Homo sapiens: one gene and its partner. The protein of the gene in region 1 purifies or fractionates together with the protein of each later gene. This does not show direct contact. Each region holds a gene or a part of one and is shown in the gene's direction. Other genes may lie near its edges.

Region 1 (3,841 bases):
TTTCAAATTCCTCACCATGAAATTTATGAGCATAATACGGTGATTGTCCTTCAAAACCACTAAGTTTTGGGGTGGTTTGTTAATAGAACAGTAGATAACGGGAACACCTTGAATATGTTTTTCTATGCTTTTATTTTTCCAGTGTTTTATGTATTTTTGTTTTGTGTCTCTTAGAAATAACAGCTACTCGGGAGGCTGAACCCAGGAAGTTCAAGTGAGAATCACTTGAACACAGGAGAATCACTTGAACCCAGGAGGCGGAGGTTGCAGTGAGCCGAGCTCGCACCATTGCACTCCAGCCTGGGCGACAGAGCGAGACTCCGTCTCAAAAGAAAAAAAAGAAAGAAAGAAAGAACATGGGTTTTTTTCCCCCAATCTGAGAGTCTCAGAATCAAATTCCTGAGGAGGAAGTGAAAACCTTTCACAGTTAGTATGTATGCACAGTAAAGCCCGAAACCGCACATTAAGTCTTTCTGCCTTTAGACCCACATCTTCCCTGCCCATTCTTCCTCTAGGAAATCTGGCGCCCAGTTTTCTCTGCGTAGTTGGCGCGGGGCTTCAACTCCCGGCGCTCCTCCAGCTACTGGCACCTCCCTGGCCTCCAAGACGTCTACCAGACCTGCGTCTGCCCGGGGAAACTTTGAAGTTCCCTTCGGAACCTCGCAGGCTGACAAGCAAGTCAGAGCGATGGGTGGAGGAGGTTGCCATGGAGACAGGTCCAGGGCCAGAGGCGCGGGAGGGGGAGGCGGCAGCTTGGGCTCCGATTGGCTCTGCGGGCGCGCAGCGTTCCTCTGGCGCACATGCGCAGTGACGCCGAGGCGAGGTCGCGGCTAAGCAGAGGCGCCGGGGTTTCTGGGCCGGGCTTCTCAGGACCGGGCTGGAACGTGCAGCTCCTGGCCGGGACACTCTGTGCTTTGCGGGGAAGGGAAGTGGCGGAGCCCGAGGATCCGCTGCCGCTCGGGACTGAGCCCGCCACGCAGGCGCCTGTGCCAGCGTCGCCATTGTTGCCTGTGGCCTTAGGGCCGCTCCGGCTGCCCGTCGGCCGGGTCCCAGCGACAGGTATTGATGTCCGGGCGCAGCGCGCGAGTGTCCGCGCGATCAGTGACAGCCCGAGCCCGTCCACGCGCGGGCTCCCGTGCTCGTGGCTTGCGGGAGGGCAAAGACGGGGTGGAGGCTGCTGTGGGCCCAGTCCCAGCGTTGCGCGTCGCACGGTCCCCGACTCCCCCGCTGCCCTCGACCTCGACCCTGCGGCTGAAGAGGAGTAAGAGGCAGAGGGACTTGGCCGGGAAGGGGAGGCGACAGGAGGCAAGGCAAGGCTGTCGCATCACCTCCGCAGGGCCTTGTAAACAGTTGTCTTTGGTGGCACGACTGTGCCTCAGCAGGGCTCGGAGCTGGAGCCTGGGGAGAGGTGGTGTCGGTTCTCCTCCAGATCAGGCCGGTTCTAAGGTTTCCTTCGAGAATCCTGGTTTCGAATATATCCCTAAAGAACTGTCTCCTATAGAAGCACTTAAAGGACTTGAAGTCACACCAACCTCTTCACTCTTTTCCAGTCCAACCCGCTGGTCTTCCCAACCCTCTGATAGTGAAAGGCTAGAATCGGCTGGCATTAACATGCAACGCAGATAAATGGCTCGCCCTTTCCCCTGACAGTTCCCTTGGGAACCTTGAGCACTGTATTAAGAAGAAATTCTCCTAGTTTCTTCCAAGTAACAGATTCACTTTGTTATTGTTGAGAGTCCGTTCAGTCATTACAGCTTCTGTAACATCAGTGACTAAAATAATGAAACTATTTTCTCTATAAAAATGTTTAATTTTTGTTACAACAGGTTAGAGGTTTAATCTGTTGTTTGGCTTAGATTCGAGTCATTGCCTCTGACACTACCTTTTTAATAGCAGCTCCATCCCCCACCAACCCCAAGCAGATGGCAGTTCCCTTACAAGTCTAAGGATATAGGGGAGGAAGACAAGGTAAAGCTTATGTGTGTTCATCTATGCACACTGCGAGTCTGTTTCTGTGTGTGTATATGTATAGTAGAGTACACCAGGGATTCTTGACCTTGTGGTCCATGCTTGTGTTTCAGGGTCTCTTATCCATCCCTGCAAGTTCTGGGCTCAGAATTTGTCACTAAGGCTGCTAACTCTACCTTGATTCTGTTCTGCCCTCGGCTGCAGCAGCCTTTGATATAGTGTCCTTGTGACTCTAGCATGAGACTTCAAGCAGTTGGCTCACTACTGGAGAAATAAAGGATATTGCCAGATTGACTCTCCTGTCTGTAGCAATGTTAGCCTCAAGCAAGAGGATGAACAGTTCTTCACGTTCTCAAATCCTTCTAAGGTGGAAGTCAGACAAGGCTCAGAGTGGACCCTACAATGTTGAGAAGGAAATCCTTACTTCAAGATTCTTGCGTGACACTGAGACCTGTCGACAGAATTTTAGGAATTTTCCATACCCAGACCTGGCTGGTCCTCGAAAGGCATTGAGTCAACTCCGAGAGCTCTGCCTTAAGTGGCTGAGACCTGAGATTCACTCAAAGGAACAAATTTTGGAGCTGCTGGTGCTGGAGCAATTCCTGACCATCCTGCCTGGTGAGGTTAGGACTTGGGTAAAGTCCCAGTATCCAGAGAGCAGCGAGGAAGCAGTGACTCTGGTGGAGGATTTGACTCAGATTCTAGAAGAGGAAGGTGAGAATCATAGAGCAGAGAGGGGAGGAATCCCTGGGTGGTTAAAGAAGACAACTAGCACATCTGAGCAGCTCCTTTAAAGAAATCAGGGAGAGCACTGAGAGGTCCAGGATGCATTTTTTAAAAAGAAAGAAACTGGGGAGAACAAAGGTTAGTGAGTGAGAACAAGGCTTTAACATGAGCTCCATCCTGCATGGTGTTCTCCTTCCAGATTGCTTGGGAGCAAACACACATTATCTAAACCCCCAAGAAAAACGTCTTGAAATAATGACCAGACGCAACCAAATTACCACTGTGTGAGCCCTCAGAAAGTACCTTCAGAGGTTTGCACCATTCTACTAATAAATCATTTGCTTTGTGAATTGAATTTTACAATAAAATACTTCCAAAAAAGGAAGAAAGGGTCTAGAGAACATTCCCTTATTAAGAGATAACTCACAAAATTAATATCACATAAGGATTTAGTTAAAATGTGAATTTTGTTCATACTCTTTAAGATTTTTAGAGCGAGCTTGTTTTTGAAGTCTGTTTTGATGTCTTAGGACAAGTCATTGGCCCTTTCCTCTGATGCTTTGAAGTAGGAGTGCTGTTTTTGATTTCCTTCTTACTTCTCGATTTAAGAAAGTGTAGGCATCTATTTGGTGAGGGGTTTCCTAGGCTATTCAGAAAGGACTAATCTCCCTCATGACCTCTTTCTCTTCTCTAGCTCCTCAAAACTCTACCCTTTCCCAAGATACCCCAGAGGAAGACCCCAGAGGAAAACATGCTTTCCAGACAGGATGGCTAAATGACTTGGTGACCAAAGTGAGTGTGACTGTCTTTTCTGATTTTAAAATGCCTTCTTAGTGTGTGAGGACATTTTCTGACCTGGCCCTATAACTACTGTGCCCCCAGAAGCTCTATCAAGGACTTAAGCCCCAGTTTCTCTCCTATGTTATCTTGGTCTGTTAAGGTAGGTGAATGTACTATAAAGAAAAGGTGCTTCCATTGCCTTCCCTTGATATGTCTTTCCTTACTTTGACTTTGTCAGCAATATCACATAGAGAATACGAGATTGACCTCCACAGCCAGATGGATTTAGGTTTTGTTTCCCGGCTCTACCATTGGAACTGCAATTTGGGACAAGATACTTAACCTCTCTTAGCCTGAGTTATTCTAC
Region 2 (3,568 bases), on another chromosome or scaffold:
CAGGCTTCATGCCTGTTCTAGTTGAGGACTATCCTGGGTATAAATGGAAAATATTTTCCTGAGAAATTACCGTAAGTTCTTTCTAAAATAACCTCAGAAAGAGCTTAAAATAAAGCTTATTGTGCCGTCGCCTTTATTTCAGGGAATCACGCTGAAGCTGAATGAAAAACAGTCCTGTACGGTGGCCAGAATTCTTCATGGTGGCATGATCCATAGACAAGGTACTCTGTGGGAGCTCTGGGTGGGGTTTGATTCAGGGATTAATAATTTACTCCCTGTTCAGTGGTGTGGGGCATGAAGCTTATAATCCTCCAAACTGGTAGCATTTTTGTGAGTGTGCCAAGAGACTTTTTGTGGCTTAATAACTGGCTCTGTAGAATCAGTACATGATAAGATCTCTATGTGAATTGCCCAGTGCCACCATCTCCCTATCTGAGCCTTCTTTCACACCTATTTATACCAATATTTTTCTAGTAAGTTAATATTTGAGCAATTGCCACATGCCACCCATTGCATTAGACTTGGAAAGGACAGCAGTACCACTTGGTAGCATTTTGGGGTTTGAGCTAAACAACAAAGAAACATGGAGCTTGCTGGTGAAAGAGGAGTACTGAGTTCTTTGCCTTGCTTTGTTATTCTTTTTAGTGTATACATCTGTGTCATAGTCTGGAGTCAGTAGCCACTCTAGTTCCAGGAATTTGAGGACAAGGTGTTTTATTGTGCTGTTGGACTACTGAGGCCAAGGAGGATGAGACCATCTTAAACTGTCAAGTCAAATGTTTTCAATCCTGAGTATTTGACACAATCTGTTTCATAACATGCTGTAAATCCTGGTTTCTCTTCTATGGTATCTTGAGTTACATTGACAGCTCCTGTTTGAACTTTTGTTCTTTTGTGGATTGATTTTTCATTTCATGGCAGGCTCCCTTCACGTGGGGGATGAGATCCTAGAAATCAATGGCACAAATGTGACAAATCATTCAGTGGATCAGCTGCAGAAGGCGATGGTGGGTATTTTCTATGCTAGATGAAGACCTTCCATTGTCTCCATAAGTGTTGATCCACATTGGTATCAGTGACCTCATCTCTCTGTCAAAGTATTTGTACCTTCTTGAGGGGGCTCTTTTCACTGCTAGTCTTTAATCTGTGTAAGAAATGATAATTTTCTGCCTTTATTTAGTAAAATTCTAAAGCAGGGCAAATAACCCAGAGCATCAATCTGGTGTTCCATGAAGTAATGCCAAATGAAGTAAAGCAAGCTATAACGTATATAGTAGAATCCCATTTTTGTTAAAAACAAACAATACATATGTATGCATAATGTATGTAAATATTTGTAATGCTTTTGTTGGTATGGGGAAAGGCGTGGATATATATGCGCCATAGTTCATTTTTAGGAACTTCTTCAGGACTTTTTGGGGTAAAGAATGGGGAAGAAAAGTCTTTTTTTTTTTTTTTTGAGATGGAGTTTCGCTCTGTCACCCAGGCTGGAGTACAATGGCGTGATCTCGGCTCACTGCAACCTCCGCCTCCTGGGTTCAAGCGATTCTCCTGCCTCAACCTCCCAAGTAGCTGGGATTACAGGTACCCACCATCACGCTGGCTAATTTTTGTATTTTTAGTAGAGACAGGGTTTCACCATGTTGGCCAGGCTAGTCTTGAACTCCTGACCTCAGACGATGCGCCCACCTCAGCCTCCCAAAGAGCTGGGATTACAACAGGCGTGAGCCACCGTGCCCAGCTCGGAAAAGTCTTTAGTTAGCTTTTCTTTGTTACTCTTTGCATGTCTTCATATTGTTATGCTGATTTATGGGGCACATGACACTTTTGTATTAAAGGAGGAATTGTCCTACAAAATCTCAAAATGTAAAGATGGTTGTTGGGGAAAAAAACCTGGGACTTTGAATGAATGATCACATCATTCAACTTAGTTTTCTGTACAATTTTATGTCCATTTTTTTTAATAGAAAGAAACCAAAGGAATGATCTCATTAAAAGTAATTCCCAACCAGCAAAGCCGTCTTCCTGCACTACAGGTGGGTGGCACCATTTTCTCTGTTGTCATGATGGCAGGAGTCGGGCCATGTTGTCTTATATTCTTTGAAATTTGATTATAAGGGATGTGAGTCTAACTTTAAGTTCTAAGTATCTCGCAAGTGTGTAGCTGCTTGGCTCAGGGTCCCATTATTCCCTGCCTGGTATAAAATACAGGAGCTCATTCCCCTTTCCTCAATGGAGAACATAGTGACGACAGGAGTAGAGAATGAATGAGCCTTTGCTGCTAGTGGTCAGGTAGGAAGGGAGAGGGTAATTTTATTCTACAGATGGTAAGGAATCAATACAGCTCCAAGAGGAAAATGGGTAAAGGGAATGAAGAGATCATTCACAGGAGGAAAACTACAAATGAGCATTGAACATATGAAAAAATATTTTATCTTACCGATCATCAAAGAAATGCAAATTAAAATATGCATGAGACACCAGTTTTCACCAAGCAAATTGGCAAATACTTTTTAAAATAGCAATAATAAAGCCCCGTGATTGATAGTGGCAAAGTAAAGAAAGAAACAAAAGATAGATAGAATCTGTTGAGCACTTATTCACAATTTATTGAGGGTCTACCATGTACAAAGTACTGTGCTAGAACATGGAGGTGATATAAAGAGAAATGGTTCCCAGTTCACACATAGCTCATCAGCCAGTAGAGGAATAGATTGGACAGGGCCATGGCAAGTCAATGTGGAAGAAGGAGATATTTAAAAGAATAAATCTGAAGTTTCTATTGCAGGTTACTTGTAGTGTGACGGTATAATTTTCTTAAGTAAACTTTTAAATTGCAGTTTTGGCATATATGGGCATATATTCAACAAAGGGCACAAATCACAAGTATAAAACTGGATGAATTTTCACAAACTGAGTACACCCATGCCTAAGACCGCCGCCCCCTCACCATGCGTGTTTCCTCAAGGCCCACCATAACCCTGACTTCTAACAGCAGGGATGAGTTTTGCCCCCTTTTGAAATGTATTAACGTTGAATTATACAGTATGAATTCTTTGGTGTCTTATTTTATTCGCTCAGTATTATGTTTATGGGAATCATCTATATTGCTTCATTCTCATTCATTCATTGTATGAACATGCTACAATTTAATCTATTCTGTCAGCTTTTTTGGTCTTACATTGAATGGCTGCCATTCACCAAACAGGATCTAATTCAGCAATATGAGAAGATTTACTGCCTGAAGGGCAATAAATTCACCACGTTAACAGAAAAATGGAGAAAAATCATATGATTTTTGTGCATGTGTTTTGTGGATACATCTATGCCTTTCTTTTGAGAGTAGAATTGCCAGGTTGTAGGATATATGTGTCTTCATCTTTAGGTGATATTGCCAAATAGTATTCCAAAGTTGGTGAACCATGTTACATCCCCAACTGCACAGTATGACAGTTCTGGTTGTTCTGTATTCTCACCAATACTTAGCATTGTCTGATTTGTTGGGTTTTTTTTCACCCTTTGGCCATCCTGATGGTGGTATCACATTGTGATTCTAAAAATTCTCTAA

The links. The genes of interacting proteins can lie anywhere in the genome.
Region 2: the proteins of ZNF287 (region 1) and MPP1 purify together in Homo sapiens (affinity purification with mass spectrometry; one large-scale study listed by BioGRID and IntAct). This does not show direct contact.

The regions. Positions count from the first base shown.
Region 1 is NC_000017.11:16,566,170-16,570,010, reverse strand, and holds the start of ZNF287 (zinc finger protein 287), read left to right. Parts: upstream 1-1,310; intron 1,311-1,896; exon of another isoform or gene 1,897-1,968; intron 1,969-2,081; 5' UTR 2,082-2,279; coding exon 2,280-2,682; intron 2,683-3,388; coding exon 3,389-3,486; intron 3,487-3,841. UniProt on the Homo sapiens protein: May be involved in transcriptional regulation.
Region 2 is NC_000023.11:154,788,422-154,791,989, reverse strand, and holds part of MPP1 (55 kDa erythrocyte membrane protein), read left to right. Parts: intron 1-142; coding exon 143-221; intron 222-921; coding exon 922-1,007; intron 1,008-1,967; coding exon 1,968-2,036; intron 2,037-3,568. UniProt on the Homo sapiens protein: Essential regulator of neutrophil polarity. Regulates neutrophil polarization by regulating AKT1 phosphorylation through a mechanism that is independent of PIK3CG activity.